7 linked regions of the Homo sapiens genome follow. The protein of the gene in region 3 purifies or fractionates together with the protein of the main gene of each other region. This does not show direct contact. Each region holds a gene or a part of one and is shown on either strand. Other genes may lie near its edges. The genes, in order: CAMK2G, PFDN1, IGBP1, CKMT1B, SH3BGRL, TOM1L2 and RPAP1.

Evidence for each region.
Region 1: the proteins of IGBP1 (region 3) and CAMK2G purify together in Homo sapiens (affinity purification with mass spectrometry; one large-scale study listed by BioGRID and IntAct). This does not show direct contact.
Region 2: the proteins of IGBP1 (region 3) and PFDN1 fractionate together in Homo sapiens (co-fractionation; one large-scale study listed by BioGRID). This does not show direct contact.
Region 4: the proteins of IGBP1 (region 3) and CKMT1B fractionate together in Homo sapiens (co-fractionation; one large-scale study listed by BioGRID). This does not show direct contact.
Region 5: the proteins of IGBP1 (region 3) and SH3BGRL fractionate together in Homo sapiens (co-fractionation; one large-scale study listed by BioGRID). This does not show direct contact.
Region 6: the proteins of IGBP1 (region 3) and TOM1L2 fractionate together in Homo sapiens (co-fractionation; one large-scale study listed by BioGRID). This does not show direct contact.
Region 7: the proteins of IGBP1 (region 3) and RPAP1 fractionate together in Homo sapiens (co-fractionation; one large-scale study listed by BioGRID). This does not show direct contact.

What each region holds. Positions count from the first base shown.
Region 1 is NC_000010.11:73,811,593-73,815,845, reverse strand, and holds the end of CAMK2G (calcium/calmodulin-dependent protein kinase type II subunit gamma), read left to right. Parts: intron 1-598; coding exon 599-831; 3' UTR 832-843; intron 844-1,340; coding exon of another isoform or gene 1,341-1,402; 3' UTR 1,403-3,345; downstream 3,346-4,253.
Region 2 is NC_000005.10:140,278,578-140,282,775, forward strand, and holds part of PFDN1 (prefoldin subunit 1), read right to left. Parts: intron 2,957-4,198; coding exon 2,872-2,956; intron 1-2,871. UniProt on the Homo sapiens protein: Binds specifically to cytosolic chaperonin (c-CPN) and transfers target proteins to it. Binds to nascent polypeptide chain and promotes folding in an environment in which there are many competing pathways for nonnative proteins.
Region 3 is NC_000023.11:70,136,188-70,140,385, forward strand, and holds part of IGBP1 (immunoglobulin-binding protein 1), read left to right. Parts: intron 1-4,198. UniProt on the Homo sapiens protein: Associated to surface IgM-receptor; may be involved in signal transduction.
Region 4 is NC_000015.10:43,596,329-43,599,906, forward strand, and holds the end of CKMT1B (creatine kinase U-type, mitochondrial precursor), read left to right. Parts: intron 1-79; coding exon 80-203; intron 204-1,047; exon of another isoform or gene 1,048-1,864; coding exon 1,865-1,999; intron 2,000-2,498; coding exon 2,499-2,624; intron 2,625-2,828; coding exon 2,829-2,945; 3' UTR 2,946-3,078; downstream 3,079-3,578. Other genes in the region: STRC (stereocilin precursor), read right to left, coding at 3,344-3,432. UniProt on the Homo sapiens protein: Reversibly catalyzes the transfer of phosphate between ATP and various phosphogens (e.g. creatine phosphate).
Region 5 is NC_000023.11:81,200,720-81,205,599, reverse strand, and holds the start of SH3BGRL (adapter SH3BGRL), read right to left. Parts: upstream 3,499-4,880; 5' UTR 3,400-3,498; coding exon 3,355-3,399; intron 3,164-3,354; exon of another isoform or gene 3,024-3,163; intron 3,009-3,023; exon of another isoform or gene 2,880-3,008; intron 1-2,879. UniProt on the Homo sapiens protein: Appears to function as an adapter protein that bridges proteins together or proteins with mRNAs. May function as a ubiquitin ligase-substrate adapter.
Region 6 is NC_000017.11:17,864,114-17,868,311, forward strand, and holds part of TOM1L2 (TOM1-like protein 2), read right to left. Parts: intron 2,812-4,198; coding exon 2,763-2,811; intron 2,307-2,762; coding exon 2,183-2,306; intron 1-2,182. UniProt on the Homo sapiens protein: Acts as a MYO6/Myosin VI adapter protein that targets myosin VI to endocytic structures. May also play a role in recruiting clathrin to endosomes. May regulate growth factor-induced mitogenic signaling.
Region 7 is NC_000015.10:41,519,982-41,524,179, forward strand, and holds part of RPAP1 (RNA polymerase II-associated protein 1), read right to left. Parts: coding exon 4,115-4,198; intron 3,992-4,114; coding exon 3,790-3,991; intron 3,374-3,789; coding exon 3,264-3,373; intron 2,980-3,263; coding exon 2,784-2,979; intron 2,270-2,783; coding exon 2,117-2,269; intron 1,900-2,116; coding exon 1,757-1,899; intron 1,167-1,756; coding exon 410-1,166; intron 1-409. UniProt on the Homo sapiens protein: Forms an interface between the RNA polymerase II enzyme and chaperone/scaffolding protein, suggesting that it is required to connect RNA polymerase II to regulators of protein complex formation.

The sequences.
Region 1 (4,253 bases), on a different chromosome or scaffold from region 3:
ACTTCTTTTGCCTTTTCCCCAGAGAATCCTGGGAATATCCTGAGCTTGGTGCTTTGATGATTCTATTTCAGCTTTGGTGCCTTAAAAAAAATTACAAATCAATTTTGAATGGTTTAAGTTCATGATTTTGTTCTGCAGCCCTAGCTAGGGGTGAGCCAAGCCTTATGAAATCTAAACTCAGCCTAACAGAATAGAAAATCTATAGGCTTTAGTTAAGAGTCACATGGTCCTGAGTTCAGGTGTGTGATTTGAGCAAATTATTCCTTGAGCCTATTTCCTCATCTTATAATGAAGAAAATATTATCCACCAAGAAATACAGCTCGGGCATGTAAAACCCCAGCACAATGCCTGATTAAAAGCGCAGCAGGTACTGTCACTGTTACCCATCTTTCTGTTCCTTTTGGATAAAGGAGACTAATGTAATGTGGCATCCTGGCCTCTGGAGGGCGTTCAGGGGTTCGGGGGTGGGGGGGGGCGGTACTTGGAGATTCTGGGAGTGGTTGCTTGGGAGATGGTAAGACTTGGAAGTGCAGGCTGGGAGGAAAATGCAGGTGCCCAGGCCTGATGTCCTCTTACCTACCCCACCCTGCCCTGCAGTCCTGTCCAAGAACAGCAAGCCTATCCATACCACCATCCTAAACCCACACGTCCACGTGATTGGGGAGGACGCAGCGTGCATCGCCTACATCCGCCTCACCCAGTACATCGACGGGCAGGGTCGGCCTCGCACCAGCCAGTCAGAAGAGACCCGGGTCTGGCACCGTCGGGATGGCAAGTGGCTCAATGTCCACTATCACTGCTCAGGGGCCCCTGCCGCACCGCTGCAGTGAGCTCAGCCACAGGTGCACCTGGTTGACGGGGGAGAGGGGCTGGAAGGGCCTGGGATAGGTGGGGTCAGAGGAAGAAGAGAAGGCTGGGAGGTGGTCCTGGGAGAGGAGGTGTGGGCCGTCCCAGAGGACTGGCAAAGCCTGGCAGAATGGTTGCAATAAGTTATGCTTGGAAATCAGACAGACTAGGGTCTGGCTCCGTGACTCCAAATTGGATGACCTCAGACAGGTTACTTCCCCTCCCTAAACTGTTTCCTTAGCTGTCAAAGAAAGGCAGAGAGTGGTGCCTACCTCATTTAATCATTGTGAGGATTAAGTAAGATACTATAAGTAAAGCACTTAGTTAGTGCTTAGCAAATGGGAGGCAGTTTTGTATTTAAGCATTAGCTTCACCCACTTTCCCCACCTTCTCAGGCCGACTTGGCCATGTGTTTAGCGTGCTAAAGTCGCTGGAACTCATCTGTGTGCTCATTGTCCTCTGTTCTGTTACCACATTCTGTCCTGTTTGACAGGGGCTTTAGGAGATTCCAGCCGGAGGTCCAACCTTCGCAGCCAGTGGCTCTGGAGGGCCTGAGTGACAGCGGCAGTCCTGTTTGTTTGAGGTTTAAAACAATTCAATTACAAAAGCGGCAGCAGCCAATGCACGCCCCTGCATGCAGCCCTCCCGCCCGCCCTTCGTGTCTGTCTCTGCTGTACCGAGGTGTTTTTTACATTTAAGAAAAAAAAAAAAGAAAAAAAGATTGTTTAAAAAAAAAAGGAATCCATACCATGATGCGTTTTAAAACCACCGACAGCCCTTGGGTTGGCAAGAAGGCAGGAGTATGTATGAGGTCCATCCTGGCATGAGCAGTGGCTCACCCACCGGCCTTGAAGAGGTGAGCTTGGCCTCTCTGGTCCCCATGGACTTAGGGGGACCAGGCAAGAACTCTGACAGAGCTTTGGGGGCCGTGATGTGATTGCAGCTCCTGAGGTGGCCTGCTTACCCCAGGTCTAGGAATGAACTTCTTTGGAACTTGCATAGGCGCCTAGAATGGGGCTGATGAGAACATCGTGACCATCAGACCTACTTGGGAGAGAACGCAGAGCTCCCAGCCTGCTGTGGAGGCAGCTGAGAAGTGGTGGCCTCAGGACTGAGAGCCCGGACGTTGCTGTACTGTCTTGTTTAGTGTAGAAGGGAAGAGAATTGGTGCTGCAGAAGTGTACCCGCCATGAAGCCGATGAGAAACCTCGTGTTAGTCTGACATGCACTCACTCATCCATTTCTATAGGATGCACAATGCATGTGGGCCCTAATATTGAGGCCTTATCCCTGCAGCTAGGAGGGGGAGGGGTTGTTGCTGCTTTGCTTCGTGTTTTCTTCTAACCTGGCAAGGAGAGAGCCAGGCCCTGGTCAGGGCTCCCGTGCCGCCTTTGGCGGTTCTGTTTCTGTGCTGATCTGGACCATCTTTGTCTTGCCTTTTCACGGTAGTGGTCCCCATGCTGACCCTCATCTGGGCCTGGGCCCTCTGCCAAGTGCCCCTGTGGGATGGGAGGAGTGAGGCAGTGGGAGAAGAGGTGGTGGTCGTTTCTATGCATTCAGGCTGCCTTTGGGGCTGCCTCCCTTCTTATTCTTCCTTGCTGCACGTCCATCTCTTTTCCTGTCTTTGAGATTGACCTGACTGCTCTGGCAAGAAGAAGAGGTGTCCTTACAGAGGCCTCTTTACTGACCAACTGAAGTATAGACTTACTGCTGGACAATCTGCATGGGCATCACCCCTCCCCGCATGTAACCCAAAAGAGGTGTCCAGAGCCAAGGCTTCTACCTTCATTGTCCCTCTCTGTGCTCAAGGAGTTCCATTCCAGGAGGAAGAGATCTATACCCTAAGCAGATAGCAAAGAAGATAATGGAGGAGCAATTGGTCATGGCCTTGGTTTCCCTCAAAACAACGCTGCAGATTTATCTGCACAAACATCTCCACTTTTGGGGGAAAGGTGGGTAGATTCCAGTTCCCTGGACTACCTTCAGGAGGCACGAGAGCTGGGAGAAGAGGCAAAGCTACAGGTTTACTTGGGAGCCAGCTGAGAAGAGAGCAGACTCACAGGTGCTGGTGCTTGGATTTAGCCAGGCTCCTCCGAGCACCTCATGCATGTCCCAGCCCCTGGGCCCTAGCCCTTTCCTGCCCTGCAGTCTGCAGTGCCAGCACGCAAATCCCTTCACCACAGGGTTTCGTTTTGCTGGCTTGAAGACAAATGGTCTTAGAATTCATTGAGACCCATAGCTTCATATGGCTGCTCCAGCCCCACTTCTTAGCATTCTTACTCCTCTTCTGGGGCTAATGTCAGCATCTATAGACAATAGACTATTAAAAAATCACCTTTTAAACAAGAAACGGAAGGCATTTGATGCAGAATTTTTGCATGACAACATAGAAATAATTTAAAAATAGTGTTTGTTCTGAATGTTGGTAGACCCTTCATAGCTTTGTTACAATGAAACCTTGAACTGAAAATATTTAATAAAATAACCTTTAAACAGTCCATTGTGTTACTGCTGTTGGAGGTTTACGGCCAGAGGCGTAGATTTTAGCAGCCTGGCTTACCAGGTTGGAGAGAGTACCTCCTCCTACTCCCTTTGGGTACTTTTGAGAATAAAACTTCCTCATGCCTGTAATCCCAGTACTTTGGGAGGCCGACGCGGGCGAATCACGAGGTCAGGAGTTCGAGACCAGCCTGGCTAATATGGTGAAACCCCGTCTCTACTAAAAAATACAAAAAATTTAGCTGGGCATAGTGGCGGGCGCCTGTAATCCCAGCTGCTCGGAAGGCTGAGGCAGGAGAATCGCTTGAACCTGGGAGGGGGAGGTTGCAGTGAGCCGAGGTCGCGCCACTGCACTCCAGCCCAGGCGACAGAGTGAGACTCCGTCTCAAAAAAAAAAAAAAAAAAAAAAAAAAAAAAAAAAAACTTCTCATAAACAGCCTCCAAACAGCGCTCGGTGCTGCGCAGGCGACGCGGGGCGGGGAGGGAGGGTGAGTGCCCTGGGAGCCGGCTGAGGGCCTCGCCCCGCCCCTGGTCCCGCCTCCGGTTAGGCCGCTCCGCCTCTTACTCCTCCCCTCCCCCGAGTGGGCCGGCCCGGCTCCCCCTCCGCGGGGCTGAGTGGATGAGCCCAGGCCTGAGCCCGCCCCTGCTCCGAAGTCGTGGTCCCCGACGCTCGGCCGGCAGTGCCATCGCGCGGAGAGGAGGGGGTGCGCTTCCGCGGGCGGGGCGCGGAGCCCGCCGTCTCGGAGGCCGCGGCTCGGCCCGGCACTGCGGAGGGCCGCTTGATTTCCCGGAACCCAGGTCGCGCGGCTGCTAGGGCCGGAGCCGGTGGATCCGAGCGGGTGCCACCAGCGGCGGCGCGCCGCCTCCCCCGGTGGGAGCGGTGGTTGGGCCAGGCTGCGGCAGAGCG
Region 2 (4,198 bases), on a different chromosome or scaffold from region 3:
AAAAAAAAAACAAAAAACAAAACATAAGCTCCAAACTTCGTATACAGTAATAATGAGCACTTGCCCCCCCAACACTGTATTCTCTAAATATCACTGCCCACTAAACTGACAGATTAAGGAGAAATTGATAAACACTGTCATAGAGGAAGATTCATCACATCTCTCAGTAACTAAATGAATAAGCAGATGATAATTCAGTAAGATACACACAAAATTTGAACATCACAATTAACAGTGTATATGTGCATAAGTGCACATGTGGGGGTGTGCTGAAGTAATAAAACCATAAAGTTGTAGCAGTGGAAAAGTATAGGATTGTTTCAGAGAAGAGAGGGGAGTATACACTGGGTGATACTGTTAAAAGCACAGATTAGGGAAGTACTGGAGAACATATTAAATGCTGAAATAAGGCTCATGGTAAGGAGCCCATGATGATGGGAATCAAAAAAAGAAATTGTATATAAACTGGAGTTATATTACTAAAGTAGCAAGATAAACTGTCAAATGATGGAAAACAGTATATATAGCATAATTCCTATTTTAAAAAAAGGTTGTGTATATATATGCATGTATGAATGTCTTGATATAAATATAGAAGTTTGGAATGATACAGAAACCGTAGAGGTGACATTTGGATGTACCGAGGGTGGAAAAACAAAGTAATATTTTCATTGTTTAATCATTTGTTTTATATTTTATTTATGGTGTACTTCTATTGCTTTTATAATGTAAGTAACATGTAAAATGAAAAATTAAAAAAGAAAAAAGAACTTCCTAAAAGATAAAACATTCTACCAGTATTTGAGACACTCAACAAAAGGAAACTTGCAGAAAGTAAATTTCTTAATATTCACCAGAACTCAGCAGTACGGTATTGATAAAATCATCACCTGTGGCAATTTCACCTTGATAATTGGGGTTTTTGTGTTTTTTTTTTTCCCTAAAGAGACAAGGTCTTGTTATGTTGCGCAGGCTGGAATGCCTCAGGCAATCCTCCCGCTTCAGCCTCCCGTAGCTGGGACTACAAGCATTTGCCACTGTGCCCACTCTGCTAATTTTTTAATCATGAAAGTTAACAACAAAAAAAGTTAATGTATACTTGTTATAATTTATTATTACAGAGATTGTAAGAAAAAAATCAAGGCCAGGCGCAGTGGCCTATGATTCCCAGCACTTGGGAGGCCGAGGCAGGCAGATCATCTGAGGTCGGGAGTTCGAGACCAGCCTGACCAACAAGGAGAAATCCCATCTCTACTAAAAACACAAAATTAGCAGGGCGTGGTGGCGCATGCCTGTAATCCCAGCTACTTGGGAAGCTGAGACAGGAGAATCGCTTGAAGCCAGGAGGCGGAGGTAGCAGTGAGCCGAGATCACACCATTGCACTTCAGCCTGGGCAACAAGAGCGAAACTCCGTCTCAAAAAAAAAAAAAAAAAACAAAAAAAGAAAAGAAAAGAAAAGAAAGAAAGAAAAAGAAAAAATCATTTATCCCTACGTCCCATCTAATTTCTTTAGGGTAAACAGTATTAACAATTTAATATATATCCTTACATATCATCTTCAATATTCATACACAAATGTTTGTTTTTTGTTTTCATAAAGAGAATTATATACATATTACCTTGCTACTTATTATTCATTAGGATAATTTTAAATATATTTACCTACAGTTGCAAAAATGCATTTTGTTTTATCTACATGAAATGATTCTGTTTGGGTTTTTAAAGATACTTTTGTTTCTTATGAGTGAAAACACAGATATCAAACTGAACCTCTTAGAACAGTTGAGCTGATTAAAATGTTAAAATAGGACACAACAACAATCTGGTTATCACAGGCTGTTTTTTCTTTACTTGGTTTTTTTGCTTTTTTGTCTTGTTTTTACAATACACTTTTCTAAGCTGCAAATCTATTATCAAGTTTGTTTCAACTATCAGTAGTTAAAAATAAGCCTAAGTAACCTAAGATACTGCATACTCCCAGGCCAGGCCAATTCAGTGCCCCTAAGAAATCCTCAGGAGGCTACAAGTTGTAGCTCCCAAATTCAGCAGAGGGCTGAGTTAGATTCTGATCCTCTGCCTCAAATAGTACTTACAGAAATTAGATGAAATGACCTATGAAGTCAATGTATCCACCCACATGTTGGGAAATCTTGGTCCCTAAGAAATAACCAGCTTTTTGTCCAGTCTAACTTTTACTATACACAGGATGGGCCTTTCACCAAAGCCCAAGAAGAATATCTCACTAAAGGTCTTAATGTATAAATAAATTATAATAATAAAAATAATAAAGTAATATTTCCAAAGATTTGCTTACTGTTACCTATCATCTTTTTCCCTAGCTAAAAAGAAAAAATTGTTCTCATTGGAGCACCATCCTTCAGATAGTTAATTGGTTATAGCTTGCTACTTTGTCCTTATATAGAACCTAATTTAGGTTAAAGAAATTACAATGTGTAAAAAAGACCCTATACCAAGATCCTCTAAAATTTATCATTATTACCCACTCTCCTGCCCATCCACCACAATCCACTACACAAGTGTTGTTTAAATATACATTACATTTTGTTTATGGTTTTGTTTTTTTTAAAGAATAAACACATTCAAGGGCAATGAACAAAATACATTCAGGTTAAAACCATCTCATCAAAATTCTCTGCAGTTCCAAAGAAGAGACTATTCTTTTTTTTTTGTTTTGGTCTTATATGCGCTATGAATATGAATATGACAGCTTCACGGCTCCAACGTAATTATAGAAAATAAAAATAATATGACATTACTTTGGCAGGCAGGCATACATTTTCATTTAATATGACACAATAAGATTACTACTTTCTCCCAAAAGTTAACTCCTATTGCCAATAAAAACTTACTTCTAGTTCTTTAATTTTTTCTTCTGCTATTTTCTGCTTCTCTAACAGCTGACTGTGAATTGCTTCCTTGGACTGAAGAATAAACCTATGAAACACAAGAAAGTTGAAAATTAAGCCACATGACTATTGAATTCATCGAAATCAATAGCTACATACTACAAATATTAAACTGAGCAAATTAAAAGGACAAATGCATATTAACATAATACGTCAAGCTCAGGAAACCACCAGAAGTTTAAACCTTCTTGGCTGAGAAGGAATAAAGGCTTAAAAGTAGATTCTGCTTTCTTATTTAATATAGGAATCAGGCAGGGAACAGTGGTGTGGGCCTACAGTCCCAGATACTCAGGAGGCTGAGGTGGGAGGATTGTTTGAGCCCAGGTGTCTGAGTCTAGTCTGGGCAACATAGCAAGACCCTGTCTCATTAAAAAAAAAAGCGGGGGGGTTGCGGGAGTTGGGCACAGTGGCTCACACCTGTAATCCCAGCACTCTGAGAGGCCGAGGCAGGAGGACTGCTTGAGCCTGGGAGTTCAAGACTAGCCCAGGCAACATGATGAGACCCATCTCTACAAAAAATAAATTTAAAATATTAGTCAGGCACAGTGGCACACGCCTGTAGTCCCAGCTACTAGGGAGGCTGAGGTGGGAGGATCAATTGAGACTGAGATATCAAAGCTGTAGTGAGCCATGATTGTGCTACTGCACTCCAGCTTGGGTAACAGAGCAAGATCCTGTCTTAAAAACATTAAAAAAAAAAAAAAAAAGAAAAGAAAATCAGGCTTCAAGTAGATTCATATGTAAAAGAAAAAATAATAAAGGAATAAAAATATATCATACGCTAAGAGAAAAGTCAACATACAAACAAATACCCTATAAGTTTTGTTTTTTCAGTTATCTGTTTCAATTTTTATCTAGATATTTTTTAAACTATATTTGTAAAGTGGAGCGCCCCTCCATTTTTTTTTTTTTTTTGTAACAGCAGTAACTCATGACCTTTTAAAGTCACAATCAAGCACTGTGTTAGGATCAATGCATTAGTGTTTATATGAGTTCCTCAAACAAAAAGCACTGTATAAGCCTTAGTATCTTTTATTATTATTTCCAGAGTGTATATAGTACCTCTGAAAAGCTCAAAATGTACAAGTGGAAATTTTCAACTTTTTCCATTTTACATCAGGCACATTATTTACCACTGATGAGGGTGGAAATATGGAGAAGTTTTAAAAATTAACACTGAAACTGTTTTATGACTTTATGTTCACAATTCTTGCTTCAGGGAAAGGAAGAACAAACTTTTATAGCCCCAAGTAAGTGAACTGAAATATTT
Region 3 (4,198 bases):
CCTCATATGTGAAATCTAAGTAATAATGGTACAGATGGTCCCCGATTTGCGATGGCTTGTCTTAGAATTTTTTAACTTTATATTGGTGCAGAAGCAATACACAGTCAGGGGAACATCAATAAATTACATGAGTTATTCAACACTTTATTATAAAATAGGCCTTGTGTTAGATGATTTTGCCCAACTGTAGGCTAATATAAGTGTTCTGAGCATGTTGAAGGTAAACTAGGCTAAGCTATGATGTTCAATAAGGTGTATTAAATGCGTTTTCAACTTACCATATTTTCCATTTATGATGGATTTATTGAGATGCAGCCCTATTGTAAGTTGAGATGCATGTGTACCTATCTCAGGGTTAATAAGCACAAATGGGAAAAATCACATAAAACAGCACAATATCTGGCATGTGGTGAGTATTCTGTAAATGTCAGCTGCTATTAGGTAGGACACGCCAAAGAGCTTACTCTGGTTGGTGACTGAGATCCACTGAAGAGTTCTGTTTCTTTTTTCTTTATTATTATTATTATTATTATTATTATTATACAGAGTTTCACCCTTGTCACCCAGGCTGGAGTGCAATGGTGTGATCTTGGCTCGCTGCAACCTCCACCTCCTGGGTTCAAGCAATTCTGCCTCAGCCTCTCAAGTAGCTGGGATTACAGGCACCTGCCACCACGCCCGGCTAGTTTTTGTATTTTTAGTAGAGATGGGGTTTTGCCGTGCTGGCCAGGCTGGTCTCGAACTCCTGATCTCAGGTGATCTACCCACCTCGGGCTCCCAAAGTGCTGGGATTACAGGTGTGAGCCGCTGTGCCCTGGCTGTTTCTTTTCAAATAGTAGCATGATCACATTTGCATTTTAGCTAGTACACTGTACCAGCAGTTAGGAAACAGTGAGGGAAAAGATTAGACCCAGTTAAGTCACAAAGGTGACTAGGGTTTACTATTGCAATGGTAGAGGGATGGGGGAGTACATTTAGGAGGGTTGAATCTACAGGAAACCTGGTGATCAATTGGTTGTGGGAGGTGAGATAGAAGGAAGCAGCAAGGAAAGATGTCCATGTTTCTGATTTAGGTGGATGGCTGTGAAATTTATTGAGAAGGGGAAAGAGGAAGAAGAGAAGATCGGGGAAGGGGAGAGTATGAATTTAGTATAGAAACATGTTGAGGTTAAGGTGCCTAGGAGATAAGTAGAGGTGTCTGTTAGTCTGAAGCTCAGAGGAGAGGCTTGGTCTAGAGAGCTGAAGATGATTCATTTATTCAGAAATATTTATTAATTGCTTCCTGTGGGGCTGTTCTAGGTGTTAGAGAACCAGATGAAGTCAGTGCTGCTATGGAGCTTTTATTCTGGTGGTAGAGACAAACAGTAAGCTAGTAAATAATGTAATTTCCGCTGGTAAGGACCATGAGGAATAATAAAGTTAGGGGATAGTGAGTGACTGAGGATATGGGCTAGACTGATACGAAATGGAATTTAACATCCTGTCCTTTGTAAGAAGTTGAGGGCGGCCTGTCAGCAGATAATAGGTAGTTTAAACAGTGAGTTTGGTATCCAAATAATTATACAAAAAAAAAAAAAAAAAAAAACTGCAAGAGAAAGATGAGGGAGTGGTCACATCTGGTTGGAGGGATGAAGAAAAGGTTTCAGAACATAATGGCATTTGACACCAGGCGCGGTGGCTTATGCCTGTAATCCCAACACTTCGGGAGGCTGAGGCAGGTGGATCCCTTGAGGTCAGGAGTTCAAGACCAGCCTGGTCAACATGGCAAAACGCCATCTCTGCAAAAAAAAAAAAAAAAATTATCCGGGGGTGGTGATGCACTCCTGTAATCCCAGGTACTCGGGAGGCTGAGGCAGCAGAATCGCCTGAGCCCGGGAGTCGGAGGCTGCAGTGAGCCGAGACTGCGCCATTGCACTCCAGCCTCAGTAATGGAATGAGACTGTGTCTCAAAAAAAAAGAACATAAATGGTATTTGAGATGAGTCTTAAAGGATGGTTAAAAATAGAAATTAGGCTGAGTGCGGTGGCTCATGCCTGTAATCCCAACTCTTTGGGAGGCCAAGGCGGGAGGATTACTTGAGCCCAGGAGTTCAAGACCAGCCTAGGCAACAAAGTAAGACTCTGTCTGTACCAAAAAATAAAAATAAAAAACTAGCCAGGTATGGTGGCACAGGCCTGTAGTCCCAGCTACTCCAGAGGCTGAGCTGAGCTGGGAGGATCACTTGTTGAGGCTGCAGTGAGCTGTGATCGCACCATTGTATTCCAGCCTAGGTGACAGAGCGAGACCCTGTCTCAAAAAAAAAAAAAAAAAAAAGATTTTTCTGAATGTAAAAGTCATAGTGCTCATTGTAGAAAGTTTGCAAAACAGAAGAATATTTTTTAAATAAAAAATAAGCCTCAATCCTAGCACTCATAGATGATCATTGTTAACTTTCTGATGTGTTTCCTTTCAGTTACATAGTTATTTAAGCTAATAAATTTGGAATGCTGTAACTATAGCTTTTTATCCTGTTTTTTTAACCTAACATTATACCATGAGCATTTCCTCGTGTCTTTTGAAACCATGATATTGAATGTTCCATGCTCTAGTTGTACCATAATTATTTAATCTGTTATTGTCAAATATTTAGACACTGGTTTTTTGCTATTCTGAGTAATGCCATAAACAAACATCTTTAAATGTATCTGTCACTGTTTCCTTAGGGTAGATTTCTAGAGCCGGTGACTGGGTCAAAGTGTTTGAATATTTTGAGGCTCTTGATATGTGGTAAAAGTGTTGCTTTCTACAATAACAGAGTTTCAGAATATGTTCCACTGCATTTGTCTTGGGTGTTAATACTTAGAAAATCCAATTGGGTGGCCGGGTGCGGTGGCTCACTTTGGGAGCCTGAGGCAGGTGGATCACCTGAGGTCAGGAGTTCGAGACCAGCCTGGCCAACATGGCGAAACCCCATCTCTACTAAAAATACAAAAATTAGCCAGGCATGGTGGCGGGTGCCTGTAATCTCAGGTACTTGGGAGGCTGAGGCAGGAGAATTGCTGGAACCCAGGAGGTGGAGGTTGCAGTGAGCCGAGATCGCACCATTGCACTCCAGCCTGGGCTGGCAACAGCGAGACTCCGTCTCAAAAAAAAAAAAAAAAAGAAAAGAAAAGAAAAAAGAAAATCCAATTGGGCAAACAGAAAGTATCTATTGTTTTGATTTGCATTTCTTTGGCCTGCCGCTTTGAACGTTTTTCTTAAATGCCTGACAGATATCAACACTTAACTTTATACTAATGTCTCCCACATTCGTATTACTAGCCCAGACCCCTCCTGACCTTCAGACCCATACTTGCAACACCCTTCCTTCATGGGTGTTTCACAGACATGTCATACCTTGAACCCTTGGCTTTTTAACCCCCAAATGTGCCTCCTCACCCATCTCAGTAAGTGTACCACCATTGACTTAGGTTTTTAAACCAGAAACCTAGGATTTAGCTTCAATTCCTCACTTTTTCTGAATTTTCACATCCAGTCCATCAGCAAAGGCCTTTCCATTCCAGCTACAAAAGGTATCTTCTATCCTTCTATTTCTCTCCATCTCCACTATCATACCTCAGTCTAGGCTACCAGCATTTCTCAGCTGAGATAGACAAATCAGCTCCAAGGCCTTGTGTGATCTGCTGCCTGCCTCTTTTCAGTCTCACCATGTATCATTCTCCCCTCGTTCACTAGACTTCAGCCACAATGACCGTCTTTCAGTTCTTTGAATAGACCCAGCTCTGTCCCTCTATAGAATGTCTGTGTGTGCAGTTCTCTTTGCATGGAATGCTCGTCATATGGCTAATTCTTCATCCTCTAGGTCTCAGCTTAAATGTCACTCCTCAGGCCTTTCCAGATCAGTCTCTTTAAGTAGTTAACAACTATTATTCTCTCTTTGCTTCATGTTTGTTTCCTTCTTGGCACTTGTGTGCAGTCATTTCATGTGTCTTTCTGAGTTTTGTCTCTCTCCCCTACTACAGTATATACTCTATGAGGGCACAAGCCATTTCTTGTTCACTATGTTATGCCTGCCATAGAGCTTGGCATATAGAAGTTCCTCAAGCAATGCTTATTATTGACAAGCAGGAGAAACAAGATGAACAAAAGCCCAAAGCCAGGGTATATTTAGGTATGTTCAAAGACTACATAATAGTCTGGTTTGGCAGAAGCTAAGAGG
Region 4 (3,578 bases), on a different chromosome or scaffold from region 3:
CCTCATAAATGCTTTTTTTCCCTCTATCTCTCCCAATTCTTGCCTTGCCTCTTGATCACTGTCCCTCTCCGGCCCTCAGGCACAACAATGAGAAGAGCTTCCTGATCTGGGTGAATGAGGAGGATCATACACGGGTGATCTCCATGGAGAAGGGTGGTAACATGAAGAGAGTGTTTGAAAGATTCTGCCGAGGCCTCAAAGAGGTTAGAGAAGACTATGTAGGGGAGCTAGGTGGGAGGACATAAGGAAAACCAAAGAGTAGCATAAATAGATTATGTAATTTACCAACCAACCCAGGACATGTCTTATAGTAAAAAGGACTATCTAGGACTCACTCCAGGACTAAAGGTGTAAACCAGCTGGGACCATACTGGGAAAACCAGGACATGTGGTCACACTAAGATTAGGAAAAGAAAGAGTGTCAGGAATCTTAGGAAGTGAACAAGGCTGTTGACAGAGAGTGCAAAGAAGGAATAAATGAGATGGCACGTCAGTGCCTGGGATGTGTGCAGTGGGATGGTGAGGTGTGCAGATAAGGAAAACATTCGAGCTTAGATTGATGTTGGCGGGGAGAGGTTGCTGTGTTCATGACTCTAATATAACCACCCAGTTCTGAGACAAGGTAGGCCTTGACTCTGGATTCTATCATTCTTGTTAAAGTATCGGGTCTAGGCTTTAAGTTGAGAGTTCGGAGAGAGACTGGGGAAGGTGGAGGATAGAATGGTTCAAGTTCTAGAATATGTGGCTCTAGATGAGAGGTTGAACTGAATCATCAATCCTACATGGATTGGGTCTCCGTATTCAAGTCTACATTAGAAATCCCCATAAACTCAATTCAATTCTTACTGTATGTTCTCAAACATACAGTTCTATTTTAGGTTTGCAAAGAAAAAGAGCTCCTCTTTTAGATTCTGAGAAGTTTCTACTATTTTTGGCAAGTAATAGATAACATATTCTGACTATGAGTGGGTAGGGAAGTACCTTTAAATTATATGCCTCAGTTTCCTCATCTGTAAAATTGGGATAATGAGATTTTCTACATTTTAGGTTGTTGTGGGGATTAAGTGAAATACAGGTAAAGTACTTGGTCCACAGTAAGTGCTTAATAAGTGTTAAAGTGTTAGCTGCAATATTATTCTGGATGGAAGAGTTTCCCCCCATGTTCAGCATGTAAGATATCCCCTATGGCATGGTTCCTTCTGAACTATAAAGAGGATCCCTTTACTCATGTTGGGTTGTGGTCTTTGTGACCATCATTCTGCTAGATCCCTTGTCTCTTGAACTCTAATAGTCATCTTCATGACTACATGGTTAAGTGAAGCCAAACGCCTTCCCCCCGCCCCCTATTCCTATGAATCTGGCTTTTCTGCTCTGTTTTCATCTTTCTCTGCATTCACACAGGTGCTCCGTTCACAGCTAACAGAATGTTATCTTACCTCTTCCTGGCAAAGCTTACACCTTCATCTTCTGTCTGAAGGGACCCTTCTAAGCTCTAGGCTCATTAGCAAAGCAAAGATAATCGATGCATGCAGACCTCATTGAATAATCAGTCATCTCTCAGTTCAGTTTACCACCTCTGTTCATTTCCCTAGATCATCCTTAATACACCACTCCTTCGAGTTTTCTTCTTCCACATAAGATATTTTTTCACAATCTCATTATTATGCACATCATAATTTTGCATCATGCATGCATGAAAACAATAACAAACCTTTTTCATTTAAAAAAAGACCAATGTCATTCATTCACAGCCAAGTTTCTGTTCTAGACATATTTCTAGTGTTCTTGTGGGTCTAGCTAAGGGAGGGTCCAGGGTTAATGAAATATCCCTGATTTTTCGTTAACAAAACCTTTGTGGACTCAGGTGGAGAGACTTATCCAAGAACGTGGCTGGGAGTTCATGTGGAATGAGCGTTTGGGATACATCTTGACCTGTCCATCTAACCTGGGCACTGGACTTCGGGCAGGAGTGCACATCAAACTGCCCCTGCTAAGCAAAGTAAAGGAGTTGTGGGGTTACAGAGGGGTGTGAGTAAGGAAGGGTGGGTTGTGGATGGGGAGGGAGTGGACCCTTTGGAAAGGAGCCAAACATGTTGTGGCTAAAGGGTCAGAGGACAGGCCAGGCACAGTGGCTCATGCCTCTAATCCCAACACTTGGGAGGCCAAGGCAGGCAGATTACTTGAGCCCAGGAGTTCAAGACCAGCCTGGGCAACCTGGTGAAACCCCATCTCTACTACAAATACAAAAGTTAGCTGGGTGTAGTGGAGGCTGAGGTGAGAGGATCACTTAAGCCTGGGAAGTCGAGGCTTCAGTGAGCTGTGATCACTCCAGCCTGGGTGACAGAGAGAGACCCTGTCTAAAAAAAATTAAAAAAGAAAAAAGAAAAAAGGAAAAAAAAAGTTCAGGAGACAGAGCTCTGAGCAGGTTCAGGGCTCTTTCAGGTAGGACTAGTCTCTGCCTCTATTGACCCTGCTCCCAATCCCTATCTCCTCTCTAGGATAGCCGCTTCCCAAAGATCCTGGAGAACCTAAGACTCCAAAAACGTGGTACTGGAGGAGTGGACACTGCTGCTACAGGCGGTGTCTTTGATATTTCTAATTTGGACCGACTAGGCAAATCAGAGGTGAGATCCTAAGGGATTAGGACAAGGAGAGGTATAGGTCTGCGAGGGCCGAAATATGGCAGTGAGTGAGCCTCCGGGATGTAAGATAATCTGAAATGAAATTCAGGTTGAGTGGGGAGGCAATTGGAAATGAGCAGGCAAGTCAGTCAGTGATAAAGAAAAACTCAGACTGTAGGAAGCAGATCAAAGATTAGTGTCCCTTAGGTGGAGCTGGTGCAACTGGTCATCGATGGAGTAAACTATTTGATTGATTGTGAACGGCGTCTGGAGAGAGGCCAGGATATCCGCATCCCCACACCTGTCATCCACACCAAGCATTAACTCCCCATCGCCAGCTGATGACTCAAGATTCCCAGGAGTTCTGCTCATTCTAATGATGGCCCATTCTACTTGCTCTGGACCTGCCCCCGCATCCCCTGCCTCCATCCTAGTAAAGACTCCTTGCTATGCTGCAGCTGTCTGTGTTACTTCTAATGGTGGGGTGAGGAGGGAGCAGCCTTCAGGAAATGAAAAGAGGCAGTGGGATTATTTATGATGGAAAGAGACTCCAGATATGGCAACCCAGGAACACTGATTCTCAGGTGGGTGGAAAGCATTAACATTTTACCCATATTCCTCATCAGCTTCTGAAAATAATCAGGATGCACTTCTGTTTGCACTTTATTCATTATGACTTAAGATTTCTCTCCCCACAATCTCCTTCTACTGTAGAGACAGGCTCATAGCAGGTGGCCAAGGAAGCTGATAGTCAATACCAGGGACCAGGAAGGTCGTGACCAGTCCTGGAGGCCCCAGGCTGTACTTCGACCTATAATAGACAGGGAATGGGAGTAATATCACAACTCAGCTCTCCAGGAGCATTGATACTTGGAAATTAGCGCTCTGCCTGTAGACTCCTTCACTCCAGGGATCTCCCTGGGTGCACTCTAAGAGCCAGACAGCACCAAATTAGGG
Region 5 (4,880 bases), about 11 Mb from region 3:
GAACTATTCAAAATAACTATGATATGTGGCTAAGTGTCCATCAACGGTGAATGAATAAAGGAAATGTGATATATATATATATATATATATATATACACACACACACACACACATATATATACACACACTTATATATACACACATATATATACACACACAAAATAAAATATTATTCAGCCATAAAAATGATATTCTGTTATTTGTGACAACATGGATGAGCCTGGAGGACATTATTTTAAGTGAACTAAGACATAACACAGAAAGACAAAAGACATACCACACGTTCTCACCCATGTGGGAGCTAAAAAAGTCGATCCCATGAAGATATTGGGTAGAATGGATGGTGGTTACCAGAGGCTGAGAAGGGTAGGGGGAAAGAAGGATTAAGAGAGGTTGGTTAATGAGTACACAAATACAGTTAGATAGAAGGAATAAGATCCACTGTTCAATTGCACAATAGGGTGGCTATAGTTACCAATATAATTTACTGTATAGCTAGAAAAAACAGCTAGAATGTTTGGAATGTTCCCACCACAAATAAATGATAAATGTTTGCGGTAACGGATATCCTAATTACCCTAATTTGATCATCACACATTGTGTGCATGTATCAAAAGATCATATGTCCCCCATAAATATGCACAATTATGATATATCAATAAAAATAAAAAATGAAATCCATTGCAAAGACCAACATACTTGTTTTCATTTCTAAACTTTCAAGAAGCAAGTGCTACTCTTCACTATTAGGCCACTTTTTTTGTTTTGTTTTGTTTTTGAGAGAAAGTCTCGCTCTGTTGCCCAGGCTGGATTGCAGTGGTGCGATCTCTGCTCACCGCAAGCTCCGCCTCTTGGGTTCACGCCATTCTCCTGCCTCAGCCTCCCGAGTGGCTGGGACTGCAGGCGCCCGCCACCATAATAAGTTAACATTGTCTTGCCAATTATCACAGATCCAGATCCCCCACTCTGCCCAGTATAACCAGTATAACATCTGTTGTTTTTTTTTTTAATGACAACCAGTAGGAAGATTAAGAAACAGTCAGCTACCACCAATCCAAAGCAAAGAAGCTTTTAACTGTTCTTCAGACAACTAAACTTAGTCACTTATTGAAGTATCTCACTATGTGCAATTGTAGGACTCCATCAGGATATTTGCTCAAAACTTTCTAACTTATGTATTAAAACAAACAGGGCATCAATCTTAAAGGAAAACTTTAGTACAGCAAACTGAAAAGTGCCTTTCTGAAGTAAATAATCACCACTCCATTCATGTTACAAAGAAGTACTCACTTTACACTGTTTTGGTATTATTTAAAAGTGTTGTAATAGTATAATAAAGCAAGGATTTATTTTGGCATTATGAAGTAGAATTTTGATAACAGGTTCATTGAACTATAATTACTACAGTAGATAAATTTCTAATAAATTTCTAACTACTCATGACAAAAAATTGAAATAAAATACAAATACCATAAACATCTGCCATTTGCATGGTCTTCAACAATAAAGTCCAACAAAGATGGGAAGAATAGACACTGAAGACTACAGAGGAGGGAGGGAGGAAGGCAAAGGTTGTAAAATTACCTATTGGGTACTACGCCCACTACCAGGGTGAGAGGTTCAATGGTACCCCAAACCTTGCACAGTATACCCATGCATCAAATCTGCACATGTACCCTCTGAATCTAAAATAAAAGTTGAAATCTAAATAAAAAAAAAAAGGAGTCCAATAAAGGAAATAATAGAAGACAGCAGCCATTTCTAAGGCTCTTGGAAACTTAAGACTTAACAAAGAGAGGTGCAGTTATTCTTACTTGAATAGAAATTCTGAAAGCAGTTTCTTGTTGAATCTACTTTTAAAGAAGGGGTAGAGGAAGGAGAAAGCAAAGAATAAATAACAGTATTGAAACTGTATGACTCCCAAAGCAAAACTAACTGCCTGATCTGTTCAGTCTCATTAGGGGTTTAACTAAAGGCATTAAGTTGGACTTTACAATTATTGGATTGAGTTGAGACTCTGAGCAACTCAAATTTTACTTTGAAATATTAGACAACATGTATGGAAAATAATAAAGCAAGAGGCTCATAAAATTAGGTCCAAAGGAAATATAAAAGGTGTTCTTTTTTTTAACCTAAACTTATTCAAAAAATGTAAGATTAAATTTTCTGATATTCCAAAATTGCATAAACATATCCACACATGGTGGCCAGAGAAGACAAAGTTCAAATATCAAGGTTCTTGTGATTTAACATAACCTCCACTTCCATTCCACATCCTCTCAGGTGTAAATAAACAAGCCAAAAAATAAAAACACACAACAACCTGGATTAGCTGCTGCTCTAAAGCTCAAGAAGAGGGAAGGGGTTCCTATACCCTACAATCTGAACCCACACATCTGTTCTTGCCACTGTCTGCCTTTCTCTTGAGTTGTAAAAAGCAGAAGCACTTTCATTTATCATGGATATACACTCATCTTGCACCCCAGTTTATCATATTCTCCCGACAGCTGCTGAAAATTTGTTATTCTAAATTAAGAGTAAGTGAATCCATGAAAGAGAAAGTCCTATCATTTGAAGCAGCAGCAACTCAGGCTGCCACTACACAAGAAGCCACTGAGCTCCCTATCCAGTTCTCAATATACTTGAAGCAGTGAGAGAAATTTAAAAGTAAAATATTTTGAAAGAATAGAAACAGTCAAAATAAGGGACAATATGGGGGGAAAACTGAATCTCGTGTCATATTAAGTTAAAAAAAAATTTACGTCATTGTTACCAACTTCCCCTCCCAATTTGTCTAGTTCTAACAGGCCTTCAAGCTCAAGTTAACCACTTTCTTCTACACACTCTCAAAATAACTCTATTACCAGGGTCTCACTCACCCAGAATAATTACAATGCCTCGGTAGGCCTCCACTCAATCCCCACCAGTTACAGCATGTGTACCCCCATCCTTTACAGAAGTGCACTCCTCCTTGTCTCAGTACTTAGGGCGTATTCATCAAATGTCTCACTCTTGAAACTCACCAGTGTGCGATTTTACTTGACTTCACGTAACCCTAAAGACCGTATAGCACCATCTCCCATCTCCCAAAACTTGGTAGCTTTCGTTTTCCTTCAAAGCAGAAATGTGCCCCCCAACGTCACGAAGCAAACAAAGCTGAACTCTATGTGGAAAAAAAAAAAAATGAAATCGATGCAACAAAGGGAAAAAAGGGAAGAAGAAGGGTGGGATCGGGGATGCATGAGTCTTCCAAAGGAGAAGCTGCCAGAGGAACTTCTGCATTTTAATGGTTCTGGGGCAGCAGAGGACTGGTGTGTAGGAAAACAACAAAGGTGGACTCCCCACTCTCCTTACCGCTGTAGAGCCAGAGGAAGATGCAATATATACACGGATCACCATCCTGGGAACAGCGGCTGCGGTTGTTTGGGTCCTGAAAAGGGCTGTGGAGCAGCTGCAGCAATGGCTGGAATCCAGCTAGGGGCTGAAACAGCGGTTGGCAGAGAAGGGTGGGGGAAGGTGGAAGGAGAACTCGCCAGAGCCCCGCCTCCGCCTTTAGCAGCTTCCACCGAGCTCTCTAAGCGCTGCAGTTCCAGCCCAAAACCCCGGAAGGAACAGGCTGTTTGCATCAATTCTATTTTTTTTTAATAGGGAATCTCGAATAGCACCGCGAGATCTGTTGAAACATTGATTTTTGACGATTCCTTCCCTGAGAAGAGGGCGAGGAGAAGAAGAAAGAAAAAGGAGAACTGAATTGAATTAGATTAGCATGAAGGACCTTTTCACGCGGAGACTAAAAGTACTGCGCATAACTTCCTGCTCAGAAATATATGCAAATAAGAAGACAGATCCTGAAAGAGCAAGCTGTATGTTGAAAACCCATGTTCTCAAAGCCTTGCGCATTTTAAGATTCCTATTACGTAGTGATTTTTCTGATCTTAGCTCGTTGTAGGAATTAGGCACTAAAGTACTGAGCAATGCTGCAGAGTTTTGAAGGAAAGTTTCAGGTTTCCTTAAGCCCAGAAATGGCAGGATTGGTTTTCTTTTTGAATTTTGTGTTTTGTTAAATTAGGGAACCCTGCTTCCGTGGGAATTTGCAGGAGGCCTGATTGGCAAGTTTAAGAATGAAGGAATAAATTACAAAGAAAAGATTGAAAATATTGTGTAAAAAGATGGATGATTTTTGTTTTGTTTTGCTTTTTAACTGACTGAAGTAAGGGATTTGGGAGAACATATTGCAGATGTTGAAATGGTGAAGAGAGAGATCAGATGGTTATTTGTAGCTCTAAGGAAATGAGCAAACAGTTAATAATGTCCAGAGACAGACCATATACTTCAAAGTGTAGTTTTAGGTTCCCAGATTATGTTAAATGAACAGAAAAAAAGGAATTTGCAAGATGAATGAGAGTGGAGAGGAGTCAGTCGCTTGTCCTACTTCTTTTCCTTTGCTGTTTTTCCACTGTCTCCAGTCTAGTGGTTTACTGTCTTTGCCTAGGCTCAGTGCTTACAATAGCTTTGTTAACTGTTCCCTACCCACAGGTTTTCCCTTCTCCAATCTGTCTTAAATACTAATTCCAAATTAATCTCTTTACATGTTGTCCTTAAAACAACCTCAAGAGGTGGGTACTATTACATTAATTTTACAGATGAAGAAACTGAAACTCAGAAAAATAGTTTTCCTAAAATCATATGGTTAGTACATTCCAGAGTTAGGAACTCCAGAGGCCACCTTCTTATTTTTTTTTAATTATACTTTAAATTCTAGGGTACATGTGCACAACGTGCAGGTTTGTTACATAGGTATACATGTGCCATGTTGGTTTGCTGCACCCATCAACTCGTTGTTTACATTAGGTATTTCACCTAATGCTATCACTCCTCCA
Region 6 (4,198 bases), on a different chromosome or scaffold from region 3:
CTGCCTTGGCTTCCCAGAGTGCTGGGATTACAGGCGTGAGCCACTATGCCTGGCCTACTATACCTTTTTTAAGAAGAGAGGTAGCAGAATCCAATTTGATTTTTTTTTTTTTTTTGAGACAGAGTCTCGCTCTGTCACCCAGGCTGGAGTGTAGTAGAGCGATGTCGGCTCACTGCAAGCTCCGCCTCCCGGGTTCACGCCATTCTCCTGCCTCAGTCTCCCAAGTAGCTGGGACTACAGCCGCCCACCACCACGCCTGGCTAATTTTTTGTATTTTTAGTAGAGACAGGGTTTCACCGTGCTAGCCAGGATGGTCTCGATCTCCTGACCTTGTGATCCACCCGCCTCGGCCTCCCAAAGTGCTGGGATTACAGGCGTTAGCCACCGCACCCGGCTTTTTTTTTTTTTTCTTTTTTGAGATGGCATCTTGCTCTGTTGCTCAGGCTGCAGTGCAGTGGCACAATCTCGGCTCACTGCAACCTCCGCCTCCCGGGTTCAAGCGATCCTCCTGCCTCAACCCCCCTAGTAGTTGGGATTACAGGCACACACCACCATGCCCAGCTGATTTTTGTATTTTTAGTAGAGATGGGGTTTTGCCATGTTGGTTAGGCTGGTCTTGAACTCCTGACTTCAGGTGATCCACCTGCCGCAGCCTCCCAAAGTCTTGGGATTACCGGTGTTACACTTTGAATTTTAAGTATTAAATCTGGCAGTCATATATGCTGGACTGACTGAAGGCAGAGACATCTGTTCTGATACAGAAATAGTGGCTACAAATATACGAAATATTGAGAAGCTACAATTACAGCAACTGATAGCCACTAGAAGTTTAACTCAAGTCAAATGAAAGGAAAGTAGACGAGAAATATTTTTTAAAAAGGAAAACAGAAAAGCAAGACAGAGGAAAGAATTTTGAGGGCCATGCTTATTATTTCAATGTTATAATTTCATTTGTTATAAATTGGTATCATCCAGTATAACCAATGTGCTAGAGTCATATACACACTTTGAATGTACAAACTAAATGAACTGTGGAAAGTGGTGAGTTTCTTTTAAGTTCCAGACAATGGACTGCTTTAGGCTGATGGTAAAGTTCAAGGAGAGCAAATATTTCAGTGCTGCTACCTCCTGTTTCCAAGCCCTCTGTAGATATTGACAATCAATCAATCACAGACTTTTCTAAGCCCTGATGTGGCTTCAGCATCCTCCTCAAACCTGTGTTCCAAGAAGCCAAAGAGCTGAAACCTATCTGCCCTCCTTGACCTAGTTAATATTTATTTATTTTTTTGAGATGGAGTCGTCCCCCAGGCTGGAGTGCAATGGCGCGATCTCGGCTCACTGCAACCTCTGCTTCCCGGGTTCAAGCAATTCTCCTGCTTCAGCCTCCTGAGTAGCTGGGACTACAGGTGCCCGCCACCAAGTCTGGCTAATTTTTTTGTATTTTTAGTACAGACGGGGTTTCACCATTTTGGCCAGGCTGGTCTCAAACTCCTGACCTCAAGTGATCCACCCACCTCAGCCTCCCAAAATGCTGGGATTACGCGCCCGGCCTTGACCTAGTTAATATTGAAAAGGAAATTACTTCAATCATAGGGAATGTTCCATATAAAACATGGCAGGTGACCTTTCTTTTTTTTTTTTTTTTTTTTGAGACAGTGTCTTGCTCTGTCGCCCAGGCTGGAGTGCAATGATGCGATATCGGCTCACTGCAACCTCCACCTCCCAGGCTCAAGTGATTCTCCTGCCGCAGCCTCCCGAGTAGTTGGGATTGCAGGTGCCCACCATGCGCAGCTAATTTTTGTATTTTTAGTAGAGACTGGGTTTCGCCATGTTGGTCAGGCTGGTCTCAAACTCCTGACCTCAGGTGATCCACCCACCTCGGCCTCCCATAGTGCTGGGATTACGGGCGTGAGCCACTGCGCACGGCCGTGACCTTTCTTTAATTCATTGGAATTTCCCCCATCCCTGCTTTCCAACATAGATTTTAAACTTCAAATTTAGGGGGAAAAAAGGTATGAATTGAAAGTAAGGTGGTACAACTGGCTAGGACTCAGGAATACACTTTCACATGTATTTCCCAAAAGACTCTCTTTGGGTCTTCCAAGAAAGAAAGAGAGGTGGCCTGCAAGGGAGGCCAGTGGTAGGAAGTAGGTAGGCCCTTTTGTCCCTGTGAGACACTCACCTAAGCCTGCAAGCTGGGAGGAGAGGGAAGATGGGGGCGCTGTGTTCCCCACCATTGGGCTCACCACGGCTGGAGACCCTGGCCCCAGGTCTATTAAGTTGTCTTCGGTTACTTCATTCAGTACCTGTCAGAACATGAGATTGGCCATAAGCCCCAGAACCCTGGAGTCAGGCTCTGAGGTAGAAGCTGGCAAGGCAACTATGCAGGGTTCCAAGAAGAAAAGTATCAGCGCTGCTCTAGTACAGAAGCAAGGCCACTTCCCCCACCTGCCTTCCAGGTCCATGGTGGGCCTGGATGTCAGTGAGCCCTGCTCACTGCCTCCTCCCCGTCCCCACTAGAAGGAGGGGTTGCTGAGTCAACAGTGACTGTCCTGGGAGATGCAAACTTAGGGCTTGCTTGCCACCTTCCCATCAGGGGTGCCTGCTAGCTCTGCCCTAGTATCCCATCAACCAGAGCTTGCCTCTTCAATTTCCCAAATATTTCAAAACCAGTTAGAAAAACTGGAGGTCTCTCCAGCCTCCAAAACGTGGAGGGGTAGGTCTGGCCTCAGGAGATGACAGGATTCTGAAGGAATACTTACTCCATTACTGGCATTTTGAACGGATCGGCCAGACCTGTATCGTTCGAACCTAACAGGGGAAGGGAAAGCAGAAGTAAGGAGAGAGGATGCCTGTGATATGGCCCTGTGGGGTGCTCACTAGTCCTATGAAGAATCCCTGGGACCAAGACCAGCCAGTCCCACCTGGGGGCTAGGGAGTGAAACCATATATCAACTCTGCCACGGCTTCCTCTGTGTGGGGCTCCCCCTGAGAGGATCAGCTTCTCACCCAGCACCCAGAGTGGGCATCAGAAAGGGGTGGTGGCTGGCCCATCATGGAGGTCATTGTGAGTGTCCCCAGCCTCTCCTCACACACCTGGGCCCTGGAGGGAGGGTGGCTTAACCACCTTACCTTGGAGCTGCAGACTCCCTATTTCATAGGGCTGTGTTCAGGAGCAACTAGCTAGTGTTCCTAACATGCTCCCAACTCAGCCTCTGGGGAAAGGGGGTGGGGCACACATAGGGTGGGCACCAGCAGGAGGAAGGCGGACGCATGGCCCTGGCTACGGCCTGGGGAAATGCTCGCCAGTAGCTGCTACAGAGAGGCCTGGGCCAGTCATCGAAGGACTGCTAGGAGGGTGGAGTGAGTGTCCTCTGCACCCAGTCAGGCAGTGCAGGGGGAGTTGGCTTTGAGCAACTGTCGAAGGCCAGGTCATCCTCCTGTCAGGTGGGGAACGGAAGAGTAGTTATGAGGTGTGTGTTGGGGTGGGGCAGAATAGATTATGTTCTGTATCGTATTTAAAAACTCCAAATGCCATGGGCAGCGGTAGCTAAGAGACTTTTTCCAGCTGGAGCCTTAGACACCCAGCTTTAGTGAGTTATGCTGCTCCAGATTTGTCTCCCAACTTGCTGGGGTCAGCAGCTGGTGACAAGAAAGAGATCCCCAGGAGGAATGATCTGGGTAAGGCAGTGAGTGTCCACTGTGGTTTTAAAAACGACTTGTGTGTTTTTTCAACAGTGGTCTACAAGGAGAACAGGAATATTAATACATCTGAAACAATTTTAATCCTGGGGTACCTTTCCCACACTCATCTTCAATGAACAATGAGTATCATCAAAGACACTCTAACCAGGATAGCACTTCCAGCCACCAGCCCCAGGCTTTGCCTCTGAATTATGTGTAATGCTTGGACTGGGAGACTCTTGGGTGAAAATACTCATATTAGTTAGCTCCTGTTATGCTTTCTAGCAGGGCTTAAATAGGTTTAATAGGTTAAACCCAAGCCCATTTACCATGGAGAAACTGGAATCACATGGCAAGACAAAGGGGCCTCGGGCTGGGAGTCAGGTCCCCTTATATCTGCTCCTGTTCTCCAACTGATGCACTGGGGGGTCCTGGGGATGCCCCCACACTTACTGCAGAGGTTTATTCACCTGTCAGGTGGGCACAGAGCCACTGGTGTGTACTTCCGTAGTCA
Region 7 (4,198 bases), on a different chromosome or scaffold from region 3:
GGGGTGCAGTGGCGCGATCTCGGCTCACTGTAGCCTCCGCTTCCCGGGTTCAAGCGATTCTCCTGCCTCAGCCTCCTGAGTAGCTGGGACTACAGGCACCCGCAACCACGCCCAGCTAAGTTTTGTATTTTTAGTAGAAATGGGGTTTCACTATGTTGCCCAGGCTGGTCTCAAACTCCTGACCTTAAGTGATCCACCCACCTCAGCTTCCCAGAGTGATGGAATTACAGGCGTGAGCCACCACACCCAGCCCATGTTAAGCCCTTTTCATTGATTCTCTTAATCCCCTCAAAGCCCCCAAGAGGTAAGATGAGGAAGCTGAGGTCTTCCAAAGCTCCTCAAGGCTCAGGACTGCCCCCGAGGCCCAGTGCAGGGTACCCTTGCAGGTCCTGCTGGGCTGAGAAAGTACCTGGGTCAGAGGCAGGCTCAGAGCTCGCAAGGCTCCCACGTGTTCCCCAAAGAGGGCAAGGCGCAAGGTGACACTGAACCGACGCTGCAGGGGCAGGAGGACCAGGGCCCCAAAGAGGTGGTCCCCAAAAGAGACAGCCTCAAAATGATCCAGGAAGTTGGCATAGAGGTCAGGGAAAGACGTCAGGCCAGGGAGTCGGCAGTCCAGGTTGAGGTTTGGCAAGACTTGAGGCTGACAGAGCTGGGCGAGGAGGGCTGCCACCAGATGCTGTACTGGGGACTCCCGGAACAGCTCACTGTCCACCAGGAACACACACATGAGCCGTGCCAGGCGGGCAGCAGGGGGCACAGCCCAGAGAGCCTGGGGGCGCCAGCTCTCCAAAACTAGCACCCACTGCAGGACCCGCATGGCTGTGCCCATGGTGTCTGTGGGAGAGAGTCCCGAGGGGGTGTCTGAAGCCCGGTGGTAGAGGCGAATCAGTGGCAGGAAGGGCCAGTCGGTGGGCAGCAGCGGCTCCGTAGGCATGGGCAGTAGCAGGGTTGGGACTCGCTGTAGCTCCCCTCGGTGCAGAGCCTGGGAGGCCAGCAGACTGGCTCGGGCTGGCGAGCAATGAGTCAGGTAGCAGTTGCGGATGCTGGGGAGGTCCTGGCAGGCCTGAGCCAGCAGAGTCCCTTGCCCACACCGAGGGACCCTGCTGCTTCCTAACGACAGCTGGTCAGAGAAGTCGGCTGCCTCTGGACCCCCTGATGTTCTTTCCCTGTAATGGGACCCAAAAGCCAAAAATGAGGGCTGGAACCACAGCACTTGGAGGCTGTGCCAGCTCTTTGGAACTTCCTGGAGGCTCCTAGGTCCAGACCTGTGCCTCTCTGCTCCCTTAACTACTTCCCGCGCAGTGCTGTGTAGCAGTTAAGAGGATGCACACTACAGCCAGCTGCCTAGGCATGAGTTTACATAACTTCTCTGGGCCTCAGTTTCCTCAGAGTAAAATAAGGATAATAATAGTATCTATCTCATGGTCCAAGTAAAATACTTAAAATGTAGATAAATACATAAGGGAGTATCAAACACAGAGTAAACACTCAGTAGCGGATGGCTATTACATGTGTGTAACTGATTTAGATACCATTTTTTTAGCCATGCAGTCACACTGAAGTCTCACAATCATTCTTGGGTGTGGTTAGCCTGATCCTCACTTCACTAATGAGGTAATGGAAGCTCGGAAGAGTTAAGTGTCGTCGGTGGAAGAAAGAGAATTTAGGTCTCCTGGCTCCAAATTCAGGGCTGCTCTGTTAACAACTGCAGCAGCGTCCAAAAGGGCTGAGTTGATGCCACCAACCAAGCACTTACGGGAGGAACTCCAGCCGGAATACACAGCTCAGCAGCAGCTCATGGGTGAGGTACTCACTTCCGGGCAGCAGCCGGCTCAGCAGGGCCAAGGCCATACCATGATAGAGGGCAGCATGGGTGGCTGGCAGTGGCTGCAGCGCTGCCTGCAGACAGAAAAGCAGGGAACTACCTAGTACAGGAGAAGGGGACGTGGCAGAGAGAAGTGAGGAAGAGGATAAAAGTGAGGCTGAAGGGCAGAGGTCCAGGGCATGTCTGGAGGAAAGTGGGAGCTGCATGGCCTGGCAGAAGCAGGCTGGGTTCCACAGAAACAGGAAGGAGATAATGGGATGACAGGAGAACCTGTCAGACAGGGGGACCTACCGCTTTCTGGGCCAGAGCGAGTGCCAGGTACTGCAGGTGGTACTCATGGCGCAGGGCCCATGCAGAGAAAGGTGTGAGGTGTGGGGCAGCCCCAGGAGCCACACACTGGAGGAAGTAATTCTGGAGTCCCGGGGCAGCCAATATGGCAGCCAGCTGAGGAAAAGCAATTTTGTTCAGATCTAGAAATTGACTCTCATGCCTTCTAGGGCTCCCCAGGTGGCTGCCCCTCTCCAGACTCAGGGAAATGAGTGCCAGCAGAAGGCCTCCCTTCCCCATGGGACACCCTCCCACTTTCTTTTTGGTTTTTTTTGAGATGGAGTTTCGCTCTTGTTGCCCAGGCTGCAGTGCAATGGTGTGATCTCAGCTCACCGCAGCCTCCGCCTCCCGGGTTCAAGTGATTCTCCTGCCTCAGCCTCCCGAGTAGCTGGGATTACAGGCATGTGCCATCATGCCTGGCTAATTTTGTATTTTTAGTAGAGATGGGGTTTCTCCATGTTGGCCAGGCTGGTCTCGAACTCCCGACCTCAGGTGATCTGCCCACCTCGGCCTCCCAAACTGCTGGGATTACAGGCGTGAGCCACCGCGCCCATCCCACCCTCCCACTTTCTTTCTGATTCCTGCCATCTTGGCCCCTTGCCTGGCCCCTAATCAGGCACCCCACACTTACCTGGCCACACAGCCCCTTGTGGATCTGGGCCAGGGTATTAAGAAGAGAGAGGAGGGCAGTGAGGAATGGGAAGGGTGAGGCTGAGCCAGCCAGACTGAGACGGGGGCAGCCTCCCGAGCAGCCCAGTGACACGAGGCTGGGGGGAGCTTCAAGGGCTGGCACACAGGACAGCGGGTTGCAGAGAAGGGAGCAGTGCCTGTAGGTGAAGTGGAGAGTCTGAGGGGGACTCTGGCCTGGCGTGTGCCAAGCTGGAAAGAGCTTCTGGGTCTGTACCTAAGACTAACGGGGGGCCTGGCTGTGGAGGTCAGTGCTGCTCACACTCCTCAGAGCCCACCCCACTGCTGCCTGCTAGGGACTCGGGTTTCCCTCGGGCCGAGGGCCTGCACCCTGGGATGGACCTGGGAGCTGGACCCAGGAATCCCACAAGGAAAGAAATTGCCTCCTCCCCTGCTTCCCCCAGCTACCAAACACAGTACATACCTAAGGGAATCCCACAGGCTGCCCAGTGTGGGCTGACTCAGCAGTGGCAGCAGCAGCTCCTCTGACAGGCGCTGCATGTCCTGGAGCCAATCCTCCGGGCATGAGCTTGGCTGGTGGACCAAGGAATTCACTGAGCTGATGGCCCAGCCATTCATTCTCCTAGACCCTGTGTACCCAGGCCAATGCCACCATCCCAACAGCCCAAAAGAGCACATTTGGAGGCTTCTGCAGGCTGAGCCTTCTGAAGGGAGAGAAGGCCCCGATGTGTAGGGGGCATAAAGAGGGAGCACACAGGCTACAGGAAGGCTGAGCTGCTGCGTGGGCTCTCTGGTCCCCACCAACATGGCTCCTGGGAAGCTCCACGGGGATATGGAGGTAGAAAGAGGAGGAAGGGTAGGAATTAAAAGGGAAGATAGTAAATGGGGAAGTAGGAGTGGAGAGATGGACACAGAGAGGGAGCAACGGGTGGAATGTAGCTGAAGGCAGGGTGCGGGGGCCTGGTGGACAGCCGGCAGGAGGCACTCACTTGCTGGCTCCAGGCCTGGTAGTAGGCTCCCAGGAACAACAGGCAGGCAACGGGCACTGGGCCCACGGCTCTCCACATCTCAGGTCTGGACAGCAACTTCAAGGTCTGCCTTAGACACGGCTCAACAAGAGGCTGGAGCCCAGACACCTGTGTCCAAGTGACTAAGGAAGGGGTGGCCGAGAGGCTGGCCTCAGCAGAATCACTACAAAAGTGCCAAAGGGTGCCACAGTGAGGATCTGGCTGCCTCACGCCCCTTTACACTCCAGCCACCCCAGCCCTGTGGAGGAGCCCTCCACCTGTCCTGTGGGTCCTGGCTATAAACTACCTGATGGTTTCAGCAGGGGTACTGCCGGCTGCCAGGGTTAGCTGGGTGAGGAGAGTGAGCAGTGAGGCTATCCGCTGCATGGAC